Linked DNA regions of Homo sapiens. The protein of the gene in region 1 purifies or fractionates together with the protein of each later gene. This does not show direct contact. Each region holds a gene or a part of one and is shown in the gene's direction. Other genes may lie near its edges. The genes, in order: RHOQ, NSF, ESYT1, CPNE8, CIBAR1, PPA1 and SLC39A10.

The links.
Region 2: the proteins of RHOQ (region 1) and NSF purify together in Homo sapiens (affinity purification with mass spectrometry, with the first as the bait; one large-scale study listed by BioGRID). This does not show direct contact.
Region 3: the proteins of RHOQ (region 1) and ESYT1 purify together in Homo sapiens (affinity purification with mass spectrometry, with the first as the bait; one study listed by BioGRID). This does not show direct contact.
Region 4: the proteins of RHOQ (region 1) and CPNE8 purify together in Homo sapiens (affinity purification with mass spectrometry, with the first as the bait; one study listed by BioGRID). This does not show direct contact.
Region 5: the proteins of RHOQ (region 1) and CIBAR1 purify together in Homo sapiens (affinity purification with mass spectrometry, with the first as the bait; one large-scale study listed by BioGRID). This does not show direct contact.
Region 6: the proteins of RHOQ (region 1) and PPA1 purify together in Homo sapiens (affinity purification with mass spectrometry, with the first as the bait; one large-scale study listed by BioGRID). This does not show direct contact.
Region 7: the proteins of RHOQ (region 1) and SLC39A10 purify together in Homo sapiens (affinity purification with mass spectrometry, with the first as the bait; one study listed by BioGRID). This does not show direct contact.

What each region holds. Positions count from the first base shown.
Region 1 is NC_000002.12:46,545,490-46,548,989, forward strand, and holds part of RHOQ (rho-related GTP-binding protein RhoQ), read left to right. Parts: intron 1-3,500. UniProt on the Homo sapiens protein: Plasma membrane-associated small GTPase which cycles between an active GTP-bound and an inactive GDP-bound state. In active state binds to a variety of effector proteins to regulate cellular responses. Involved in epithelial cell polarization processes.
Region 2 is NC_000017.11:46,691,669-46,695,168, forward strand, and holds part of NSF (vesicle-fusing ATPase), read left to right. Parts: intron 1-1,234; coding exon 1,235-1,400; intron 1,401-2,178; coding exon 2,179-2,253; intron 2,254-2,806; coding exon 2,807-2,994; intron 2,995-3,500.
Region 3 is NC_000012.12:56,131,267-56,134,766, forward strand, and holds part of ESYT1 (extended synaptotagmin-1), read left to right. Parts: coding exon 1-50; intron 51-210; coding exon 211-300; intron 301-482; coding exon 483-538; intron 539-942; coding exon 943-1,066; intron 1,067-1,154; coding exon 1,155-1,331; intron 1,332-1,452; coding exon 1,453-1,535; intron 1,536-2,150; coding exon 2,151-2,199; intron 2,200-2,321; coding exon 2,322-2,408; intron 2,409-2,514; coding exon 2,515-2,607; intron 2,608-2,813; coding exon of another isoform or gene 2,814-2,843; coding exon 2,844-2,915; intron 2,916-3,075; coding exon 3,076-3,162; intron 3,163-3,500. UniProt on the Homo sapiens protein: Binds calcium (via the C2 domains) and translocates to sites of contact between the endoplasmic reticulum and the cell membrane in response to increased cytosolic calcium levels.
Region 4 is NC_000012.12:38,671,592-38,675,091, reverse strand, and holds part of CPNE8 (copine-8), read left to right. Parts: intron 1-3,500. UniProt on the Homo sapiens protein: Probable calcium-dependent phospholipid-binding protein that may play a role in calcium-mediated intracellular processes.
Region 5 is NC_000008.11:93,699,182-93,703,349, forward strand, and holds the start of CIBAR1 (CBY1-interacting BAR domain-containing protein 1), read left to right. Parts: upstream 1-1,368; 5' UTR 1,369-1,466; coding exon 1,467-1,492; exon of another isoform or gene 1,493-1,567; coding exon of another isoform or gene 1,568-1,876; intron 1,877-2,042; coding exon 2,043-2,277; intron 2,278-4,168. UniProt on the Homo sapiens protein: Plays a critical role in regulating mitochondrial ultrastructure and function by maintaining the integrity of mitochondrial morphology, particularly the organization of cristae.
Region 6 is NC_000010.11:70,212,930-70,216,429, reverse strand, and holds part of PPA1 (inorganic pyrophosphatase), read left to right. Parts: intron 1-1,843; coding exon 1,844-1,930; intron 1,931-2,840; coding exon 2,841-2,967; intron 2,968-3,500.
Region 7 is NC_000002.12:195,663,726-195,667,225, forward strand, and holds part of SLC39A10 (zinc transporter ZIP10 precursor), read left to right. Parts: intron 1-3,500. UniProt on the Homo sapiens protein: Zinc-influx transporter. When associated with SLC39A6, the heterodimer formed by SLC39A10 and SLC39A6 mediates cellular zinc uptake to trigger cells to undergo epithelial-to-mesenchymal transition (EMT).

The sequences.
Region 1 (3,500 bases):
TATGGGGCCAGAGGCAGACACATGCAAATATTATTTTATTTAGTCCATAAAACAACCCCATGAGATAGGTGGTATTTCATCTTTGCGGTGAGGAAACAGGCTCAGAGAAGCTAGGTTGCTTGCCTGAGGTCACACAGCTACTGAGGGGTGTTGCTAGGATTGGGACAGGGGTCTGAATCTGCTCCAGTTTGAAGTAGTTATACACACAGGACACCATGGGAATGCTGAGATGCCACGGGGTTGATTGGATTGTTTGTGCATCCATAGTTGTGGTACCTGTAATCTTCACAGCCATTCTCTGAGTGGGTGTTGGATGGCACCTCTACAGAGGAGAGAACTTAGATCCAGAGTCACTTGAAGTTGACCCCACTTACAAAACCAGGGCTTTCCATATATGGCCGTAATTACTCTTTTTAGTGGAGGATCATAAGATATAGACCAAGCAGGATGAACATATTAGTAAGGCTCAAATACTACTGTTTTCACCCAATGCTGGACACCATTGGTGGGGCCTAGATGTGTGTTAGGCCCCATTGGTGTTTTTCCCAGTGTCTAGACTTTTGTTTTTGCATCAAAGCTAGTAATATTTCATCTCCCAGCATTTGAGGGTTTATTACTAATAAGCAACTTAGCAATGATGAGACCAAATGGCAAGTGCCTGCTGTGTACCTGGTACTATGTCCAGGTACTTTTGCACCTGGGGAGTGCAAAGGAATGAATTTAAAATGGGGATCTACCACAGCTGATGTCAGCAAAGGGAGAAATGTCTGTCTCGGGTCTCTGTTCATGTGTTACATAGGAGATCTCTACATTGCACTTGGTCATTAAGACCTCAGGCTTCTAGGAATCCATATCAGATTTGTCTTACAATAATAACAATGATAAATAAACATGTAAATAAAAAGTAAATAAAAAACATTAAGGGTTTATATATATATATATGTATCCGTATACACATATACATATATATATATATATATATATGTGTATATATATATATATATATATATATATATATATATGTATATACATATATATATATACACAAATCCTTAAGCCTAGTGGGCAGCAGAGAAAGGTCCATGGGCTTTGGAACAAAACAGGCCTGGGCTCAGATCTCCACCTTAGCTAGTCATGTGATTCTAGCTAAATTATTTACCTTTGTGATCTAGTAAAAACGTGAATAATTAGAATCTGCATTACAAGGTCATAGGCTGGCTTAAACTCTTTAACATATTTAAAAGCAGCTGATACTTTGTGCATAGTGGGTGAGTGACAAATAGTACAGGAAATTATTATATTCCACTATGGGGAGTTTTGTGGGGAGAAAGGTTCACAGAGTGGAAGAGAACAGTATATTGTGCCTGGAGTTGATAGAAATTCCACTAGAATGCCAGATCCTAGAACCTTTTCAACCAAGGTGTGCAACAGCTTTGCGCATTGTAATTCCCATAGTCCCTATTGTGGGATCCATGGTTCCAAGCCCAGTGCTCCCTGCCGTAAATGCCCTGTTGTATCAGATGGTTTTCTGTCTTAAGCAGAGCCCGTATCCCCATTGATAGAAGAGAAATAGCTTAGAGTTCCATGCAGAATTTGACAGACAAGTAGGGTATGTAGGCTTCAGTTGGTTCTACTTTCAGAGAGTTAAGATGGAATGAGGCAGCTCATGGCACTACAGGTCAGTTGCCTTCTCTCCAAAATGTTCACTCATGCATGTGGGCACTCATTGTATTTGAATAACAGCAACAGTGCCTCCCTCAGTTTGGAACCTCTAGTCCACTTGCTCACTCATGGTCCCTGCCTTAACCCCAGTCAAGTTCAAAGCCATAGGCATCATTTGTCCGACTGACATATTAGGGCATCTACCAGTCAAAGGGTGATTGTTGTAGATGACCTTTGGCCTTCTAGAGCAGGCTGCTTTCCACTTGACCTCTGCTGCTATTAGCAGACAAAGAGAGAGAATGGGAGAGAGAGTGTATTGGACTTCAGTCCCCATCATGTGCACTGCCTGGGGACATCCCAGCACACTCAGAGCACCACTGCCAAAGGGAACACTTCCCCTCTGTTGGCCAAGCCCATGGGTGGTCCAGGAGCAGCTGTCACATTTTGACTGCCAAGCATTTTGGAGTGGAAGTTGACCGAGGCATCTTCCTTCTCACTAGGGGCCTTGCGTGTGTTTTGGGGGTGAGGGGTTGGCTTCCTGCCTGGGCCTCTGTGGAGCTTCTCCTTTCTTGCCCAGCCTTCAGGACTTCAGTGTAGGCTCTGCAGCAACCCCATTGTCTGCTCAAGGAGGGACTGGAGAGATGGGATTTTCCCTCCTGCTACTGCACTGTTTGGAGCGATGGGAAGTGGAAAGAGCTCTCCCTCTCTGTCCAGACAGGCCAGTGGGGAGCTGCCTGGCAAGCTGCTCTCTAGCTGTGGGCTCTAGGCTGATCTCTTAATCCTTGGCAGGAAGGCAGAACTTGATACCCTGGAGAGGGAAGGACTGAAGCCCAGTTTATTCAGGTCCCAGAATATCCACACTCAGGAGGATGTGTGTTGGGGGTGAATTTGGGATCCCTAGAGTTCCAGATTTAGCCACTGTCTCAGTGTGTGGAAGTCAATTTGTGTGCTTTGGGATGTATTGTTTCTATGTCTGTTAACTTAAACACACAAGTTCAGGGAAGCGTCCATGACAGCTATAAATATCTTTTACTCTGGTGTCCCTTGGTGTTGCTTTTTCAATGACAAGTGAGATTTGTTTTACACTTGATATAACCCAGCAGCTGTGGCTGCCCTGCATGCCCTCTGGGTGCCCACAAGGCACTTCCCCTACAGAAGGGAATCTCCACCGGAGGCAGGCTTGGCATGCCCCACCTTCTGCATTTTAGCAGAAGGGCCTGGCATGATGAGAAAAGGGAAGGAGAAAGGGCCATGGGATCACCACTCACCAGGCTCCTCCCACCTCCAGGCAAGTCATCCTCACAACACCCTTCAAGGTAGACTTCTCCCAGATGAGGAAATTGGGAACAAGTGGGCTTATGGGAACCAGACAGAGATGTGATTAGGAAAAAGGTTTTCTACTTTGGAGAAGGCCTGCAGGGAACATTAGTAGGGTTTAGGAAATGCCACTCACAACATCAGACTCTGGGTCCTTGTAGCCCCGTGTTCCATCCTTGCTCAGCCCGGTGAGCAGAGCCTGGGAGGAGCCCCAGGGTTCCTTCCAGGCATCAGCTGCAACAGGTGAGATGCTGGCACTGAGCATCCTGGTTTCCCTTAGTAACCTACTGTAGATTTGTCATGTGTGCATTTTGCTAACCTTTTTAGAAGCTATTTATATCTCTAGCCCACACCGCATCACACGGGAATGCTGGTTTCCTCCTCTGCGTTGGGAAGGTGGATAGCCTTTGTTGACTCCAAAGCCTTTGCTGTGTTCGCTCCAAAGTCTGAATGCCCTGTGTTCCCCTCCTTGGGACTCTGATGTGGGTTTGGGTTATGCCAGCTTAGACTGTGGGCTGGCA
Region 2 (3,500 bases), on another chromosome or scaffold:
AGTCTCATTATGCTCATTTAATTTTTATTATCCGTATGTTGTCATATTTAGGTTATGTTCATTTTTTACCAGTTTTGTTAATCCCTAGTATTTTTTGTTTTTGAGACGGAGTCTCACTCTGTCGCCCAGGCTGGAGTGCAGTGGTGCAGTCTCGGCTCACTGCAACCTCTGCCTCCTGGGTTCAGGTGATTTTCCTGCCTCAGCCTCCAGAGTAGCTGGGATTACAGGCACCTGCCACCACACCCAGCTAATTTTTGTATTTTTAGTAGAGATAGGGTTTCACCATGTTGGCCAGGCTGGTCTCGAACTCCTGACCTAAGTTGATCCATCCTCCTCTGCCTCCCAAAGTGCTGGGATTACAGGCAGGAGCCACCGCACCCGGCCGTGTTTTTTGTTTATAAAAGAAAAAATTTCCAGAGTGCACTTTACTCCCTGATAGGAGACTAAATTACTTAAATATAAATTTTAGAAGGTACGTGTTAAATTAACCTAATGAATTAGTAGCATTCAGAAGTGTTTGTATCTGTTAAAGATTCAAAATATACAAACTAATTTCTTTTAATGGTGATTCTATTTCTAGTAAACTAAGGCAGAAATCATTATGCAGAAGAAACAGCACCCTGTTAACCATGTTCTTTTTATAAACCGTCTCTGTTCTCACTTTATTGTTAGGAAGGCGTAATCTGTTTTCATGTAATATAAGTACATGTGAGTCATGTTGAGTTTCTTCACTCATTTGTCCAATTCCCAGTCAACCTGTAGGTGGAGTTAACCTTTAGTTACATAATATAACGAAACAAACATTAAACCTACTGCTTCTGGGACAGTCTTCTCACCAAAACTCAGGGAAAATGGGAGGGTGTTGCCACTGACTGACTTAATGAAAGTATCTGACAAATGTAAGGTCTTTCAAATAGTGAGATAAGAAATGTATATAAATTATTTGATCGACTACTTACTTTCTATCTATACACACACACTATCAGTATATAATGTGTATTTTCATTTTATAGCTATTAAATATGAGGTTCTAGAATGAGTTTTCAGTTTGCAGAATTCTGAGAATCTAGTTCCAACACCTTTGAGAGGACAACAACCACAATTGCACTTGCCATATTTATTAGTCAAAATGAAGTGAAGTCAATCTGTTGAAAGCTTTGTTTTGTTTTTCTGATTAGTTTGTTTAATAAGACATTCAAATTATGATCTTTAATATAATTTCTTCCCCTAATAGCTTGGTGCTAACAGTGGTTTGCACATCATCATCTTTGATGAAATTGATGCCATCTGCAAGCAGAGAGGGAGCATGGCTGGTAGCACGGGAGTTCATGACACTGTTGTCAACCAGTTGCTGTCCAAAATTGATGGCGTGGAGCAGCTAAACAACATCCTAGTCATTGGTATGTTTACTTTTTAAAAAAGTACTATTCATTCAAAAACGTTAGCCATAAGTTCTGAATTAAGATGTGTGTAGGTTGTGATTAAACTGTTTTGCCAGTGTTTCCAAATTAGAATCCAGTGATATTGAAGAATCTATTGTAATGCCTAGGCTTAATAGGAAAAATAAAAGATGGATTTCAGTCACTTGTAGGTTTAAGCTTATAGCTCACCCACAGGTGAAAAAGATGTAGGTTGAAGCTTATAGCTCACCCAAAAATGAAAAATACACATGAAACAATGGAATGCAGTGGTTTTCAAACTGGGTCTTGCAGGCCTTCGGGGGTCCTCAGAGGTGCTTTCAGGGTCAGTGAGGGCCAGGGAGTGCGTTTCAGATCCTACATCACTATTATAACTTCCTCTTTTAGCTGTTTTATGTACTGAGGTGCTTCTGAAGATGACTTCTGGGGGAAAAAAAAAAAAAACACCCTGCTGTTTTATGAAGTCTGAAAACCACTGGCCTGTAAAAAAGAGAAGGAACTTTGGAGTCAGAGAGATCGTGTCACATTGCCCCTCTGTCACTTTGACAGATTATTTACCCTTTGAATCTTAAATTTTCTTTTTAAATACTGGAAGTTTTCATAACATTTATATTCCATTGGCTTATACAGTAGTGAAATAGTAAAGCAAAGTCTCCTTAGCTTGTTAGGGAAATTACTATTCTTACATATACTAAAAGGACATTTGATTTTATTTTTGAACTCTGATCATTTGTTGTTTTGTTTTAACATCTGTGTTCAGGAATGACCAATAGACCAGATCTGATAGATGAGGCTCTTCTTAGACCTGGAAGACTGGAAGTTAAAATGGAGATAGGTAAGGAGATCTGTCACTGATTGGGTGTGTGGTGGGGGGAGTGGAGGCATTTAGAGTTCATTAACAGGAACAATGTCATATGGTGTAGTATTTTTTAGAAAAGGTTTATATCATGAGAAGTAGATGTTTACATGCTTGAGTACCTATAAGGAAAACATTAGGATCATAATAATCTCCTCTAGGCTGGGCGCAGTGGCTCACACCTGTAATCCCAGCACTTTGGGAGGCTGAGGCAGGTGGATCACTTGAGGCCAGTTGTTCGAGACCAGCCTGGCCAAGATGGTGAAACCCCTTCTCTACTAAAAATACAAAAAACTTAGCCGAGTGTGGTGGTGTGCACCTGTAATTCCAGCTACTCGGAAGGCTGAGATAGGAGAATCGCCTGAATCCAGGAGGCAGAGGTTGCAGTGAGCTGAGATCGTACCACTGCACTCCAGCCTGGGAAACAGAGCGAGACTCTGTCTCAAAATAATAGTAATAATAATAATGATAATCTCCTCTGATGGTGCTTTCGAGACTAGGAAAATGCCTATTTTATTTTTAATTTCATCAGGCTTGCCAGATGAGAAAGGCCGACTACAGATTCTTCACATCCACACAGCAAGAATGAGAGGGCATCAGTTACTCTCTGCTGATGTAGACATTAAAGAACTGGCCGTGGAGACCAAGAATTTCAGTGGTGCTGAATTGGAGGGTCTGGTGCGAGCAGCCCAGTCCACTGCTATGAATAGACACATAAAGGTCAGGAAAATCAGCTAAACAGATTATAAACATTATGCCAGTATTCTTTCTCTTTCCTTTCAAGCATATCAAGGGGTAGGGAAATGCTGACTTTTGGTGGAGAAGAGATGGTAAAAGGAATAAGAATTAATTGTCAACTGCTAAATCTTCAGAGTAGCAGGAAGGAAGATAATGTTTGCATCTGCCCTGTAGTAACCACTGACTCATCTACCTTAGGTCATCACCATCTGACACAGACACGTAAAGTGAAAATTTTGAAGAAGTGTTTTTAAATCTTTGTATTGTATTAAAAGTTGTAATATGGCCAGGCATGGTGGCTCATGCCTGTAATCCCAGCACTTTGGGAGGCTGAGGCGGGCGGATCACAAGGTCAGGAGATCGAGACCATCCTGGCTAACACGGTGAAACCCCGTCTCCACTAAAAATACAAAAAATTAGCCGGGCATGGTGGCGGGCACCTGTAGTCCCGGCTACTCGGGAGGCTGAGGCAAGAGAATGGTGTGAAC
Region 3 (3,500 bases), on another chromosome or scaffold:
ATGTGGAAGTGAAGAAATATTTTTGCAAAGCAGGAGTCAAGGGCATGCAGGTAGGCCAGATGTCAGGGGCCACATAATAGGGAATGTTTGTCCTGCGTTTCATGGGATATGGGGAAGTGTGAGGTTGGAAAGACCAAGGCTGAGAAAGTCTGGGAGGACAGAAGAGGGACTTTTCTGGGGAAAGGCTTTGATTTTCTCTTCTTGCCTCAGCTACATGGCGTTTTGCGGGTGATACTGGAGCCACTCATTGGGGACCTTCCCTTCGTGGGGGCTGTGTCAATGTTCTTCATCCGACGCCCGGTAAGGGAAAACAATGAAGGGGTATGGGGAAGCAGGAGAAACAGAGGACTGGGAGGATGAGGGCAGCCAGTGAAGGGGAATGAGAAGGGAACTGACAAGAAGGCCGAGGGGTTCTGGCAACTGTTTGATGGGTATGACCACACCCCATAGGATCTGTCCTGACCCCTGCTCTTTCCCTCCAGACCCTAGACATCAACTGGACAGGGATGACCAACCTGCTGGATATCCCAGGACTTAGGTATCAAGGACTTACTGAGCACCTGCTGAGTGTTCCAGCGCTGGGTTGGGGGTTTAAGGGACACAGAGCAGTCAAAGATGCTGCTTGTGTCCTCTAGGAGCCTCAACTTCATTTGGGGAGCAAAGACAAATACCCCTGCAAAGTTTGATACTGTGATTTTTCTTTGGGTTGGGGGAGCAGGAAGGGAATGCAGAGGGCTGAAGACTGCAAAAGGCAATGGGGATGGCAGTGAAGAAGGGAGAGAGCAGTAGGTGGGGAATTAGGGTAGAAGAGTAGCACAAAGGATTTTCACAAAAGGACTTTCTTACAGCTTTAGGTCTCTCTTGGGTGTGGGAAACATAGTTGGGGTTAGGAGAAAATTGGAAGTTGAGGCCATACCCACTCCTTTCTACTCCCCCATTCAGCTCACTCTCTGACACCATGATCATGGACTCCATTGCTGCCTTCCTCGTGTTGCCCAACCGATTACTGGTGCCCCTTGTGCCTGACCTTCAAGATGTGGCTCAGTTGCGTTCCCCTCTGCCCAGGGTATGGCCTTTCCCCCACTAGATAGATCCTTCTCTCAGGAACCCCTTGCTGGGTCCTTAGTTTCTCACCATCTGATTCCTTCCTCCAGGGCATTATTCGAATTCACCTGCTGGCTGCTCGAGGGCTGAGTTCCAAGGACAAATATGTGAAGGGCCTGATTGAGGGCAAGTCAGACCCATATGCACTTGTGCGTTTGGGTACCCAGACATTCTGCAGTCGTGTCATTGATGAAGAACTCAACCCACAGTGGGGAGAGACTTATGAGGTGGGAGAGTTGAGCAGCTCTGTGAAATGGGGAAGCCCCAGGAGGTTGTGAGAGAAGATGCTGATTGGATGATCCTCACAGCTGCAGCCCCATGAGACACTCAGCCTTCTGTGTTCCCCAGGTGATGGTACACGAGGTCCCAGGGCAGGAGATTGAAGTGGAGGTGTTCGACAAGGATCCAGATAAAGATGACTTTCTGGGCAGGTGAGACTCTGCCTGTTAGGATTCTAAAGCCCATGCTGGCCAGGCACGGTGGCTCATGCCTGTAATCCCAGCACTTTGGGAGGCTGAGGCGGGCGGATCACGAGGTCAGGAGATTGAGACCATCCTGGCTAACACGGTGAAACCCCATCTCTACTAAAAATACAAAAATTAGCCGGGTGTGGTGGCGGGCGCCTGTACTCCCAGCTACTCGGGAGGCTGAGGCAGGAGAATGGTGGGTGAACCCGGGAGGAGGAGTTTGCAGTGAGCCGAGATCGCGCCACTGCACTCCAGCCTGGGCGACAGAGCGAGACTCTGTCTCTAAAGAAAAAAAATAAAAATAAAAAAAATAAAGCCCATGCTACCGAGGTTCTGGAGGTAATTATACTCACTTTCTGGGCCTGGGAATCATGTATCATTTTCCTTCCTAACCTCCCCACCCCCAGCCCCTACCATGCACATACTCACGCATGCAGGTGAATATCTTCTGAGAGGAATAAGGGAGTCTGAGATCTGCCAGTCATTTCTGGGTGGGTGAGTGGAGGGCCACTGACATGCTGCTAATTACAACACTACCCTTTTCTTCCTTTCACTACCCTCTCCCCCGCCAACCCTCAGAATGAAGCTGGATGTAGGGAAGGTGTTACAGGCTAGCGTTCTGGATGATGTAAGTTGGGAGAAGAGGAAGGTGGGGGCTGATCTCACCCTTTGGGTAGATAGTAGTTGCTACATTGGTAGGGAAGTAGTTGAGCAGGTATCTGATCTCTACTACATCTCAATTTCTTCTAGTGGTTCCCTCTACAAGGTGGGCAAGGCCAAGTTCACTTGAGGCTAGAATGGCTGTCACTTTTGTCAGATGCAGAGAAACTGGAGCAGGTAAGCCACATGGGAAATAGGAAGCTGGCAGGGGAGAAATAGGTAGCTGGAAGTGTAGGGGACTTGGAACGGGGACCAAGATCTGACTACTACCACCCCTCCCCAGGTTCTACAGTGGAATTGGGGAGTCTCCTCTCGACCAGATCCCCCGTCAGCTGCCATCTTAGTTGTCTACCTGGATCGGGCCCAGGATCTTCCTGTGAGTTTGGCTGGGTGAACAGGAGCCCTGGATGTAACATTCCCCAACCCTGCCTTGCTGAGGATGCAAATGTCCCTGCCTGCTTTGCTCCAGAAGTATCAGCATGTAACATAAGGGTCCCAGGGAGGGGATCAGATCCATCTCAGGGAAAGGATTCTGATGCGATCCCACCTTCCTTCACCAAAACCAAAACCGAATCCCCCAAGATGGTGACCTCTGAATTGTACCCACCACAGCTGAAGAAGGGGAACAAGGAACCCAACCCTATGGTACAACTGTCAATTCAGGATGTGACTCAGGAGAGCAAGGTGAGGGCCAGGACATCATTGTGGGTGGCCAGGTAGGACAGGGAGAGGCCTATTCTTGGGATGGTTTCCCCTTTAGAATGCCTGTTACATGCAGGGGTTTTCTGCAGAAACAGGAATGGTGCTGTGGTATACACCCTTAATCCCTCCTCTACATCTCCAGGCTGTCTACAGTACCAACTGCCCAGTGTGGGAGGAAGCGTTCCGGTTCTTCCTACAAGACCCTCAAAGCCAGGAGCTCGATGTGCAAGTGAGATAATCACCTCTTCATCCCCTCCCGAATACCCTATTCTGACTTCCCAGATCTGTACCATTTCTCCTCTCCTTCTTTTCCCTTGATTCCTATTTTTAATCCATCTACCTAGACTCCCCACCTCCCTGAATATCTCTCCATTGTTCCCCAACTGTCGCTCCAGAATAATATTTTTTTTTTTTTTTGAGATGGAGTCTCGCTCTGTTGCCCAGGCTGGGGTGCAGTGGTGCGATCTCGGCTTACCGAAACCTCCACCACCTGGGTTCAAGCAATTCTCCTGCCTCAGCCTCCCGAGTAGCTGGGATTACAGGCAGGCACCACCATGCCCGGCTAAT
Region 4 (3,500 bases), on another chromosome or scaffold:
GTTCAAATGCCCATTAAGAGACAAATGTTTGTGTAACGAGTGATCTGGGTAAATGTTCGTAGTCATCTGATAAATTCCTTTAAGAGAACTTTGTGCTAGACAGCAAGTACACAGCCACATAATATTCACCTGGTTCAGGTGTTTTATATTAACAATGGCAGCTTATTTAGCTTGAGGCTTTGGAAATGAGAATGGTTTTAGAATGTTTGACACAATCTTTGTAAGTTACTGGTTAACTTAAGCACATAGGTGGCTAACTAGATTGTAATTATCACTGAGGTGATTCTTATTTAACCACCAGTCCCTCCTGCATGAGAATAATAAAGAGCTGTCAGTCTCAGGTAAAGCACCACAGGCAAGTTGTATTGCTGACCCTGGAATCCCTAAATTCTAATCTTGGCTGGTCATCCTTTCTAGCATGATAATCTTACAGTTTCAAAAGCAAGTCATTTATCCCTCACCAACACTGCTTCTCCTGTTATTTTCTCTATCTCTATTAGCATCTACTTGAGTTGTACTTCGGGCATGAATTTCAGATACCTCTCTGGAGACAGGAAGGCTAAGACATCTTTCCTCTCCATGCTTTGCACACTTGATAATCTGCATTAACTAGTGATAGACTGTGATTCACAAACTTCACCAATTGGTAGGCTAAAATAACTCATGCTTTCTTCTTTGGCTACTATTTGCTTTTGACTTTGAAGGATGTATCTTTCATGGGTATATCTCAGGTCTCTCAGACTCCTATGGAAGTCCACCTTTAGGCATATGACCTCAGAGATGGTAAACCTCAATCAGTTCTTTTTCTTTGAGAGCTCCCACACCTGATTCATAAATGCAAAGCCACTGACCCTTCCTGGCATATATTTCTGGTAACACATTTCTATACAGAGCAGCAGGCACAGCCGTTTTGCTACTGCCCTTATCCAATAGCCACAGCTATTTATTTTCTTCGTTTCTTTAGTTCCCAGCAAATTTGTTAGGGTTTTAAGGTATGATAATTCATCATTTTCTCTCTGTGAGGTCCTGAACTAACTGGAAAAAAATATATGCAAGAATCATTCGGATCACTCTATCAGCTTTATTACTAGCAATGCAGAATTTGAGAACTTGGGTTAACCTGTGGACAATCACATTCCCATTACTTTTTCCCTCCAAAATTAAATTATCTCATTCTTATCTCCAGGACTTCTCCTTATAGAGGCGGAGTTTTGCCTATTAAGCATGCCACCGAGAGAAATTATACTTATCCTCAGGATAGTGCTGCTCCAAATGAGAGTGATTCAAGCTCAGTTATTTCTCCTAATCTTAGTAATCCTATTCCTCTTTCCATGCAGAAAGGTAAATGAAGATTGTAGATGAAAAGGGAAGTTGCCTTCCCAGAAGTTAGAGTGAAATTTTCCTCTGGAAACATGGGAACAGGGAATTAGGCTCCTGTAACACCTGGTTTCTGTTTTCACCATGATGGAAGTTCTAATGGGATAGAAAAACTTCTGGGCCCAGTACTAGAAAAGTAGATTATTCTGCTAGGCGACAACAGGTGCTTCTCTAAAATATTTTTCCTTTTTTCCTTTCAAAACACATCTCTTCATGGCTTAAAAAAAATTTCTATATTAAACTCATGTTTAATATAGAAAAATCTCTGACTAGTCAAATTGTTGCTCTCCTATCAGAGGAGCCTCTCATGACACTTCCAAATCTACTCTAGAGTAAGTGTATATATCACACATATGAACTGACTGACCTAAATCCAACTGGCAAATTGTATTAGTCTGTTTTCACACTGCTATAAAGAAATGAGACTGGGTAATTTATAAAGGAAAGAGGTCTAATTGACTCACAGTTCCACATGGCTGGGAAGGCCTCAGAAAACTTAGAATCATGGTGGAAGGGGAAACAGTCATATCCTACATGGTGGCAGGAGAGAGAGAGAGCATGTGAGAGGGCAGGAAAGAGGGCCATTTATAAAACCATAAGATCTTGTGAGAATTCACTCACTATCACGAGAACAGCATGGGGGAACCACCCCCATAATCCAGTCACTTCCCTCCCTCTACATGTGGGGATTACAGGTCCCTCCCTCAACACATGGGAATTACAATTTTAGATGAGATTTGGGTGGGGACACAGAGCCAAACCATATCACAGATTTCATCAGCTAACCACATAAAGCCAACATCTACACATTTTTTAACCTGAAAGACATTGTTTCCATGGGCAAGAAATACAATATGTTGCCATCTGTCCTTTGAAGGTACAGGAAATAAGAATAGACTATTAGATTATTTAAATTTAACTCTGTATTTTGATAAGACCATTTTAAAACTATCTACATAAATTTCCCCAGTGACTCTTTTTCAGTACTAAAAAAGAACCTTTATTATAAAGAAAGATTTCTCAAAGCAAGATTTCTTTATACTTAAAAGGCAGCCAAAAAGTCAAATTAAAGCAGCATCTGGCTATCTGCTTTGATTCGAGTTAGACGAAGGGGATAAATAAAAGGGTTTCTAACTTCATTGTGTCTCCCATGGCTAGAAAGAAATGCAAATCTGTCTCATACACCTTTCCAGGAAGAGGTAATGGTGGGAGACTGGGGTTCATAATCTCCACCTGCTTGAGGACCAGATGGTCTGCACACCTGAAGAGTAGACCTGACCCCTCCACCACTTACACACCATCTCTCTTCTTGCTCTCAAAAGCACAGCCTCCACTTCTTGCTGTCTACAGTGTTTTAAACCAGACATGCTGAAAAGTGGGAGATATTTTATAGGACTTCATGCTAATACAGTATTGCCTAAATGACTGTCCTTTTCTTCATTAATTGGAATGAAACACAAAGACCAATGGGGATTGTAGAAGACTGTGGAAAGTGAGACCTAGATTATCATCTAATTCTTGTTTCCCATTTTAGCATGTGTATAGGGTAATTGTTGTAAATTATTAACATATTAGAGAATAATGGAGAAGTGTTTGTGACCACTGAGTGTTACCATTGGTGCATATTTATGTCCCAAAGTAATGTGAAAATTGTAAAAGCAAATTTAGATATAAAAAGTATTATTTACTGAAAGTATTTGAACATAATGAGTTATATTTACATATCCAAGAAGTAAGGGAGATTAAAAAATGTCTTCTGCATTGGGATAATTATCTTATTATTGGTAATATACAGATTTTACATAATTATGATATATATTGTACACCTTGACAAATTATTGAACAGTAGCTCTCTGTTAATTATGTATACTAGCAGCGTTTCAGCCCAAGCATTGACTCATGAACATGTGTAGAAAGGTAAAATTGAAAACAATGTTTTCAACCCAAATGCATTATCTAAGCACTGAAGAAAAGAGTAAAGAAGTGAGGATTGTATGCTGACTGAGCAGTATTGGGGCCAGGGAGATGGGTGATGAGGCCAAAATTATAATTGTAAGCGGCTCTCTGGAGTCTGGTGAATGTCATGTGTATACAAAATGAATTATCAGTAATAGAATTATACT
Region 5 (4,168 bases), on another chromosome or scaffold:
ATACAAGACCAAAATCACATTTAATCTGTCTCAAAGGGTTCAAAGTCTAGGGTACAGGAGGCAGTACAAAATCAACGAAGTGTACTGTTTGAGCATTCCAACACTTCGCTCCTTCAGACAGTATTAGGACCCCGTCCCAAAGCGTTAGGACAAGGCCCTAACGCTGCCTGAAAAAGTGAAGTGACGGAGGATCCCAGAGAGGTTTCTTGAAGCAGATAAAGTCTGAATTGAGGCCGGGCCCGGTGGCTCACGCCTGGAATCCCAGCACTTTGGGAGGCTGAAGGGGGGCGGATCACTTGAGGCCAAGAGTTCAAGACCAGCCTGGCCAACATGGCGAAACCCCGTCTCTACTAAAAATACAAAAAATCAGGCCAGCATAGTGGTGCACGCCTGTAATCCCAGCTATTTGAGAGCCTGAGGCAGGAGAATCGCTTGAACCCAGGAGGCGGAGGTTGCAGTGAGCCGAGATTGTGCCACTACACTCCAGCCTGGGCAACAGAGCGAGACTCCATCTAAAATACATATATAAATAAACAAAGTCTGAATAGAGTCCTTGCAGTATTTACTGGGAAAAGCAGCACACGCAAGGCCAGGAGGGTCAAAGGGACAGAGGCGTTCAAAGGACAAAGGAGAGCCTCCTGTTTGTTTGGGGTTTTATTCTTTTTGAATTTTTGTTCCCCCAGGCCAACTCTAAGAGCCAGAACTGTTCGTTATTTATCTCAGCACAGGTTCGGTGTAAGCGTTGCCTCCTTACCCGACGCTCAGGCCCTTCAGGTCCGGGACCCCTGCTTCTTAATTATGTTTCTATTACTCCCAGTGTCTAACACAATCTCTTCCACGAAGTCGGAACTTGATACATATTTGCTGAATAAACGAAAAGTTAAAGATGAGGCAGAAAGCACAGCTCCTTCCAAGGGCAGCTCTCAAGAGCCCACGTTTTCAGATTCAGCAGTGAAGCGGACGCGTCTGGTACGAGACTACAAGTCGCACAGGCGGAGAGGGGGCCCCCGGGCCTCTGGTTTCACGTCTCCCTCCTGGTCCCCGGCGGACCGGCGTCTTTTCTCCCCTGCTCGGAGTAGCCTAGCAGCGCTGGAGGCTGGCTGTCTGGTAAGCGCGGCTGTTAGAGAGGATGGAGGCGCCGTAGCCCCGCGGTGCTTCTCACAGCCTTCGCCGGCAGGGACGCGCGGGACAACCGCGCAGGCGGCTCTGCAGGGGTGGGCGCGCCATCACCCCTCTCGGTCCCTGCCTGCTTGGCGCTTTCCGAGCCCCAGCCGCGCTCAGGCTGCCTCGGGCATTGACCGCGGGGGCGCGCGCCCCGTTTCCATAGAAACGCCCGGCCTGCCGCGGCGGCGCGAGGGGCGGGCTTTCAGGCTCCCGGCGGCTGCTTGCGCCCCAGCGCGCGCCCAGGCGCCTTGGAATCCCCGTCCTTGGGCCCCCGCAAGGTCCCCGGCCGTGCGCGAGGCAGCATGATGAGGCGCACCCTGGAAAACCGGTAACAGCCCGAGCCCAGCTGCCCAGGGCCGCCCACACTGGAGGGCTGGGGTGAGGGAAGTGGAAGCCTCTGTCCATGGGGCCTCTGCGCCGAATTCCGACCCTGAGTGGGAGGCTGCACGGTCCCCGCTGTGACCTGGGGCCTAATTCCTTGGGCTGCAGCCACCGCCGGCGGCGAAGAGGAGCCCGGGGCCCGGCCGGCTGCCACCCACCCACGCCACCGGGTCTCGGGTCCCCACACTGCCGCGGGCAGTGCGGAAGCCTAGGAGGCAGCCGGGCGCCCAGGCCGCGCTGCGCGGAGCAGCCGGAGCAGCCACCTCCCCAGTTAAGGCCAGGCCCACCCGGCCTGGGCCTTTTCCTGTGCCTACACAGTCCGGATAGTGAGGTCAGGACCCCATGGAGAGCAGTCCGCGCCGGGAGACGCTGGGTCGTTGATGGGTTTACGCCTTCAAAGCTGCAGAATGCCCGGGGAATGTTTGCATGTTAAATTAACGTGAAGCCTTCTCATCTCTAACGAGAATGTTTTGCCTTTTGTGTCACCTTTTCCCTAGGAACGCTCAAACGAAACAACTGCAAACAGCTGTCTCAAATGTGGAGAAGCATTTTGGAGAACTGTGCCAAATCTTCGCTGCCTATGTGCGGAAAACTGCCAGGCTGAGAGACAAAGCAGACCTCCTGGTGAATGAAATTAACGCGTATGCTGCTACAGAGACCCCGCATTTAAAGCTGGGCCTGATGAACTTTGCAGATGAGTTTGCCAAACTTCAGGATTATCGACAAGCAGAGGTATGGAGTGAGATCACAGTGTCATTGTTATGAATGAGCCATGAAGTAGTGGATGAAGGAACCGTGGAAACTTTCACTTGTAATCTACCTAACTGCAGAGGTGGATGCAAACTTGATAAAACGTACATTTTCATAAGACTGTGTGAGTCTATTAAAGAGAAGCGTTCTGTGTTTTATTTTACCCTTTTCAAGCTAACCTTTAGGGCATCTTGAGGTCTTGAATTTCCCCACTTTATTTGCCAACTTTTGGCCAAGGGGTGGCTGTTTACTGGGGGTAGTGGGAATAGTACCCAGGGGGAAGAAAATAAGCATAACTTAATGTCTTGTGTGGCACATAAGTACGTTTTAAAGAATGACTGGAGATGGAAATGTTGGGAATGGTAATGTGGATGGATAAATTATTAATAAATGGGTAAGACATCATTGCTGCATCCATGGTTTGGAAAATTGACCAATGGTTTACTAACAACAACAAAATGCTATGAATTGTATCATGGAAGCAAACCAATACTGAGACACCGTGTGGACTTTTTGCTCTGGGTAGCAGGAGAAGTGTCCTTGTGATTGTTTTCTTTCTAAAAGCCCATATTTTTCCTTTAAATACTTAATAAGCACTTTTACTTGTATTTATTTTCAGTTTCACGGCATAGGTTAACTTATCAGAAGTTGCCCAGTTAGAACTGCGTTGCTTTTTTATACTTTTCAGAACCTAAAACGGGAATTTCAATTTTCAAAAAACAGAATGAGTATAAAAAAAATTGAACTCATCATTGCTATCCATACAAATTTGAAGAGTAATCATATTTGGAGGTACTTTTGGAAAAATGTGGAGTTCTTGTCATGAAACTTCTGTAATAAACAAGTAACTCTCAATTATATATGATAACTGGGGACTTAATGTTTCAAAGATAATTTATATTCACAGGTAATCCTAAAATCTTATTTTAGCCAATAATTTCAATGCCCCTTTGTAGAAAACCTTTGTGCTATTTATCAAATAGCAAAGTGAATTGATTTGCATTTGTTCTCCTTTTATTTCCCTTGCTTACCAAATGGTGGAGGTCCTAATGAACAATGACAAAAAGGTAGGCAACAAAAAGGAGAACAGAAAAAAGACTTAGATAATCCTTAAACTGAATAATCAGTATGGATTATAAGAAATGGTGTAAAGCAAACTGTCCTGAATATCCATGATTTTAGGATTCCTAATATTTGAATACTTGATGAGAAGTCGATTTTTATTTTCCTAACATGTTTTAAAATGAAACATTCATATACATTTCATTTACAGAAACTAAAGAAAAATCAATATGAAATTAAGTGTATTTGTCAATTATATAAATATGTATCATTAAAAAGCCCTTTTCCTGCTATTAAAAAATGTTCATTTTAAGCAATTGAATACATCACCTATCTTGAGAAAAAAAATTTTAATGTCCAAGAGTTATTTTTCTTATGCTATATTTAAATACTTGCCTTAAAAAAAATCTCTCTTCAGTGCCTTCCACTAGTACTACTTGTAAAAGAAGTAATTACTCAAAATGTGATTTAAAAACCTGTAACGTTTAAGAAAAACTATTTAATTCTAAATGAAACAGAGATGAAACATACAGTTTGACAGCTCAGCAACTCAGACCATTTATCTTGTTCTGTAGGCTTCGATAATTCACAAATGGCTTCTCAGAAAAAAAAATGCAGCAAATACAGTGATCTCTAAGCTTTTTTGCTTTTCAAGGTTATGTTGCTTTAAATGTTTCCAAGATGCTCTGTCTTTCAGCTTTGATTTTCTTTTCTGAAAAGTTGAGCTATTACAGTTCAGAGATAATATATGCAAAGTATCCATTACTGTGCTGAACACACTGAAAATGTTAGCTGTATTAAAATTTGAACT
Region 6 (3,500 bases), on another chromosome or scaffold:
CTGCATCTTCTGCCTCTCAGGTTCGAGTGATTCTCTTGTCTCAGCCTCTTGTGTAGCTGGGATTACAGGCGCCTACCACCACGCCCAGCTAATTTTTTGTATTTTTATTAGAGACAGGGTTTCACTGTATTGGCCAGGCTGGTCTCAAACTCCTGACCTTGTGATCTGCCTGCCTCGGCCTTGCAAAGTGCTGGGATTACAGGCATGAGCCACCACGCCCGGCCTCAATTGATTTATTAATAGTATTTAGCCTTGATATATCATCCTTGTAGGAGAACATTGCTGAAATACTTACTCTTCTGTGGGTTGGATTTTGCTTTCTTAATGTTGGATTTGTTAGATGTGGTCTTCCTTTATCCCCCTTCTCATTTATCTTTTTGCCTTTACTCCAGCTGAGTAGACAAACAAATCTGAGTAACGTGTTCTAGTTGGAGGAAAAAAGAACCAATGCAACAGCTACATTTTAAACCTAACATCCTGGCTAGCACAGGCTTTCAGTTCTTTTGTGAGATGTTCTGCAAGGACTCTGGCTTACAATTTAGGAAGGAAAGAAAACCAGTCATGTAAAGCTCCAGAAAATTCTGATTAAACTTTTCAGTCCGGGCTCCTGGTCAGTGATGATACTTTTAACATCAGAACATAACCTTTTGGCTGGGTGTGGTGGCTCATGCCTGTAATCCCAGCACTTTGGGAGGGCAAGGTGGGAGGATCACCTGAGGTCAGGAGTTCGAGACCAGTCTGGCCAACATGGTGAAACCCCATCTCTACTAAAAATACAAAAATTAGCTAGGCATGGTGGCATACACCTGTAATCCCAGCAACTCAGGAGGCTGAGACAGGAGAATTGCTTGAACATGGGAGGCAGAGGTTGCAGTGAGCCAAGATTGCGCCACTGCACTCCATCCAGTCTGGGCGACAGAGCAAGACTCTGTCGCAAAAAAAGAAAAAAAGAAAAAAAAGGAAGAAGAAAAACAACCTTTCCATTTTACTATTATTGCCTATCTACTTCTGTTTTGGGAATTTATTATAAAGAAAATCTAAGACCAGGTACAGTGGCTTATGCTTATAATCCCATACTTTGGGAGGCCAAGGTGGGAGGATCACTTGAGCCCAGGAGTTTGAGACCAGCCTGGGCAACATAGTGAGACCCTGTCTCTACAAAAAAGAAAAAGAAAAAAACCACACATTTTTGTTTGTTTTGTTTTCTTTTTTTGTTTGTTTTGTTTTGTTTTTTTGAGATTGAGCCTTGCTCTGTTGCCCAGGCTGGAGTGCAGTGGCATGATCTAGGCTCACTGCAACCTCTGCTTCCTGGGTTCAAGCGATTCTCCTGCCTCAGCCTCCCAAGTAGCTGGGATTACAGGCATGCACCACCACGCCTGGCTCATTTTTGTATTTTTAGTAGATACAGTGTTTCACCATGTTGGCTAGGCTGGTCTCAAACTCCTGACCTCAGGTGATCCACTCTCCTCAGCCTCCCAAAGTGCTGGAATTACAGGCATGAGCCATCATACCCAGCCTAAAACCACACATCTTTAAAGTAAACGTTTGGGTCTATATTTGTGTTTCCCTATTGTCTCAGTTATTGAGTAGTTGGCTTTTGCTTGTTTTAAATAGGATCATTATCTGTTTTAAAGCTTAAATTTAGTTTAGCATTAGATGTGTAGTAGGAGCTACAGCATTTAATTGAAACTCTTGTGTGTAGTTAAGATTCTTAAATGCGAATAAAGAACTAAAACAATGAGAAAAAAGTAGCTGAAGAGTCATAGGATGTTATCTGTTATTCTCAACATGATCCATTTTGTCAGTATGTATAGGAATGATATACACTGTCTTATATTTTTAGACTTGGGAAGACCCAGGGCACAATGATAAACATACTGGCTGTTGTGGTGACAATGACCCAATTGATGTGTGTGAAATTGGAAGCAAGGTAATGAAATGTGACATTTTTTTCTTTAGTGTTGAGATATTAATGAAGTATACCAAATTTCATACTTTAAAAAATACTGTGAATAAAATGCATGAATATTAGTGAAATAATGATGTCTCTTTGGTATTAAAGGCTTCTTGCATTTTAAGCATTTGTATATTATAATTTTTACATTTAAATCTAGTCTGGAAAAAAATGTGTCTATGTATGTATGATTGAACATATATCTAGAAGAACTGGACATGTTCTGCATTGCTTTAGAAGATGGATAATTAGTCAATAGGTGAAAGGTACCAGGAGGGAAATTCCCTCTCAAAACATGGCAAATCTTGCCTAACAATTTAGAATGATCAGTAAATTGACCCGAACCAAATAACCTCATGAGTTGGAGATCCATGGTAGTAACTCCTCCATCAAGTAGGGTTGTTCTAAGATTCTGATTATAGTTATTTCTTTATGTCTCTCTCAGGTGCAGAGAAATAGTAAACAACTAAAAACAAAGTTATCATTTTGTTTTTTAAGTCATAAAGTTTTTGAGTCATCGTATGACTTGCTTAACTCATGACTTTTATAAAATAAAAGGTAAAGCATATTAAGATACGTATTTGAGACTATGGAGGACTTATTCTTCAGTATAATCAATGACAGTGCAAAAAACATTGATTACCCTGAGCTATGTACTGGTTTCCCTATGACCTAGAAGAAAATAGGACCTATAAGTCCTGTTTTCAACTTTAATAGGACTGATGAAACATTTACTCATTTAGGTTTTTAAAATTTGCTTAAAGGAACAATCTTCAGGTAAATTCTCAAGAACTTGGCCTCTTTCTTATTTCCTGTTAGCCAAGTAAAACTGTCTTCTAGAGTGTGGTTCTGTAATGTTGTCCTGACTTTGGCTATTGACTCTCAGGTATGTGCAAGAGGTGAAATAATTGGCGTGAAAGTTCTAGGCATATTGGCTATGATTGACGAAGGGGAAACCGACTGGAAAGTCATTGCCATTAATGTGGATGATCCTGATGCAGCCAATTATAATGGTAAGAAAATTTGAAAAGTCTGAAGTCTTTCTAATTAATTCATAAGCACCACCATACTTAACCTATAATGACAGAATTGTAAGCCCTTACCTTCAAACTGTTAAAGGATGGAGGAACAAAGCACTGGACAAGCATTATTTCTATGACTGCACTTGTAATTAACTAAGTAAACTTTCTCCTTCATTCCAGGAAAGAAAAAATCTGGTAGGTTCTTACTGTTTTTTTGGTCCTTTCCTTCCCCACATACCAGCACTCAGTTGGTATGTTTATTTATTTTAAAACATTTAATTGAGATATTCACATATCAAAGAGTCACCATTGTAAAATGTACAATTCAGTGGTTTTTAGTATATTCACTAAGTTGTACAACCATCACCACTCTCTAATTGCAGAACATTTCATCAGCCCAGAGGAAATCCTGTATCCATGGGCAATCACTCCCTGTCCCCCTTCCCTCAGTCCCTGATGACTGCAGATCTACTTTGTGCCTATGGATTTGCCTATGCTGTTATTTCATGTAAATGGCATCATAT
Region 7 (3,500 bases), about 150 Mb from region 1:
GTAAATTGTATATTAAAACAGAAAAAAGATTTGGGTTTTAAATTAGGATAGTCTATAGTTTTTTTCTTTTTTTTTTTTTCAACTTTTATTTTAGATTCAGGGGGTACATGTACAGGTTTGTTACCTGGGTTATATTGTGTGATGCTGAAGTTTGGGGCATGAATGATCCTGTCATCCAGGTACTGAGCATGGTGCCCAACAACTAGTTTTTCAGCCCTTTCCCTCCTCCTTCTCTCCCGTTTTTTCCAAATAAAGTGAATAATTGAATGTATATAACATCTTATGAAAGCACATACAGTGTACATATAGAATTTATTTTCAAGCAAATAATCATGCCAGTTAAAAATTGAAAATCAGAAAGGTATGCTAAAGTTAAATCACTGAAATATATTAAGAAAAAAGTTCTTTAAATTCACTGTAAATATAATTTCATGGAATATATAATTTCTAAAACAAATTCTTAAATCTTTTTCTGTGAAGATTTTTGCGTAAACACAAGTACTTAAGGTTTTTTAGTTAACTGATATGTGTGTGAAAGTGTTGGATGTTAGTGCAACTGACATTTTTCTTTTTCCTAAAAAAGAAATAGATGTTAGGGGTTTTAGTTTTTTAGGAGTTATTTTTAATTATAGCTTTTCTTTTAAAAAAAAATAAGAAAATATACACTAAAATATGGGGAGAAAAAACTTTTAAAATTTAGCAGCAGTCATAGAAGAAATTGCAGAAACCTTAATAAGTTTCATTGCATGTACATGAAAACATCTATACATGAAAGGGAAAACATGATCAAAATAAAAAGGAACAGAACTGCAGGGTTTTTGCAGAAAATGTGACTGAATCATGTTATGTAAAAGCTCATATATGTTGGAAAAAATATTGAGACATCAGGAATAACTTTAAAAATATGAATTAAAAATAAAGTAAGACCTTTTATTTATTTAAAAATTTATAATAATGTGAATGAGAGTGCTATGATCATACTGCTGGTGGCAGTATAACCAAGCTTAATTTCTCTAGAAATCAATTTGGAAAGTAAGTATATGACAAAACCTGAAAAGTGTTAAAGTTTTTATAGTTTTTCCCCTCATCTTGGAATTCATTCGAAGCAAGTAATCAAAGATAATAGCACAAATTGGAATTAAAATGTTTGCATATTGTGTTTCAGACTGCAAACAGGCTGGGTGCAGTGGCTCACACCTGTAATCCCAGCACTTTGGGAAGCCGGGGTGGGAGGATTACTTAAGGCCAAGAGTTTGAGACCATCCTGGGCAACATAGGGAAACCACCATCTCGACAAAAAATTTAGCCCAGTGTGAGGTCGGGCACGGTGGCTCACGCCTGTAATCCCAGCGCTTTGGGAGGCTGAGGGGGGCTGGATCACCTGAGGTCAGGAGTTTGAGACTAGCCTGGCCAACATGGCGTCTCTATTAAAAATACAAAAATTAGCTGGGTGTGGTAGCAGGTGCCTGTAATCCCAGCTACTTGGGATGCTGAGGCAGGAGAATTGCTTGAACCTGGGAGATGGAGGTTGCAGCGAGCAGAGATTGCGCCATTGCACTCCAGCCTGGGTGACAGAGCGAGACTCTGTCAAAAAAATGAATAAATAAAATTAGCTGGGTGTGGTGCTGCGCACCTGTAGTCCCAGCTATGTAGGAGGATGGCTTCAGCCCAGGAATTTGAGACTTCAGTGAGCTATCATTGCACCACTGCACTACAGCCTGGGCAACAGTGGAAACCTGCCTCAAAAAATAAATACTTGAAAAACCCACAGACAAATGCTTGTGAAAATCTTAAAGCTAGAATTCATTTTCTTCCACATGTGACATTATTTTATTGGTTTGTCAACTAAAATTTAATTTATAATTGCCAACTTTTAGGTTTTTTTCAAAGTTATACATGAATATAGTTTAAAGAATCAAATAGTTGTGTGAAGTTTCTTGGGGGGAAAAATCAGTCCCCTGTCTGTTCCTTTCATATTCTGCCTAGAGAGATAAGGAACCCCTTAATTCCTTTAGTTGATTATTTTGCTATTCATTACCATGTCTCCAGATAACATGTTCATTACTTGCAGCTGATTTTCAGTTCTAACCATTATCTATTTAATGAAGAATGATTTTAGTGCTCTTTCACTTCTGTGCATACCTTCCTATTTCCTGTACTCCAGTTTCTCCGTACAATTTTCATTGTAATTTTGGTTTAGAACAGTAATTGGGGTTACATTTTTATGCTATAAATATTATTTTATACAATGTGCCATTGTAATAAATGACTACTTTCCTGCACAACTTTGTTTTTTCTGGTAATAATTAGCTTGATTTTTTTGTCCTTTTATTTAATATGCATATATTAAAAGACCCCAGCTCTGTGTTTCTGAATGTAGCTATATAAGAAAGGGGAATGTGGTCAAGACTCTATGTTCAAGAATTTTATGTAGTTTTAAAAAATTAATTGGACAGAAAGCTCCCATGTTGGGGAATAAGTAGCCTCTGTGTTGTCTGAAACATAAAAAAAGTCAATGTTATACAAAGATTGACTTGGAGATTTTTTGATTATTTTTTTCCCATGACGTCATGGAAAAGAAGGATCATTTTAGCTGGCAGTTTTTACAATGGCAAGCTGGTATAAAATCAAGGATGTATAACAGTGACAAGACACTGAAAAAGGGAAGGGTGAAAATGCATGGAATAATAAAGATTTGAGGTAGTGCAGCAGTAGCTATTTTTAGAATAAAGACAGCTGTCAGTGATGAGTGGAAAGAGAACAATAAGCTGTTGCCAGGCTGGAGTATAGTGGTACGATCACAGCTCACTGCAGCCTTGACCTCCCGGGCTCAAGTAATCCTCCCACCTGAGCCTCCCAGGTAGCTGGGACTACAGGCATGGGCTACCACACCTGGCTAATTTTTAAAACATTTTCTGTAGAGATGGGGTTTGGCCATGTTGCTCAGGATGCTCTCAAATTCCTGGGCTCAAGCCATATGCCTGCTTTGGTCTCCCAAAGTGCTGGGATTACAGGTGTGAGCCACTGCATCTGGCTGGTTAGCACTGTAAGTCTGCTTCATAATGCATGTAACTAAAATCATAAACATTTTAGTAGCTTCAAAAGACATCCCAACGACTGCATTTACTAATCTCAGATGTTTGTATTCACAAATAGCAGAACAGAGGTAGCAATATTACAGGTAGCTTTCTCCAATATGGTTCCAGGTTCCCTGTAATGAAAGGCTGAAAAGCAGAAATGCAGGTAATTGTTTTGACATTTGATGAGAAAATGTAGGTTTGTACATGAATGTATAGAATACAATAAAGATAGATATGATGTGTTGTTGATTGATTTGATACTTTAAATCAAGGTATAAATGTTTATATTCTCTCTCAAGTTAGTGAAACAGGAGAACTGAGTTAATGCCCAAGCTTAATTAGCATGCACTTAACTTTTTACATGAATGAATCTCAGTGGAAAGATTGGGTTGCCTGAACTGTGCTTTTATTTATTTATTG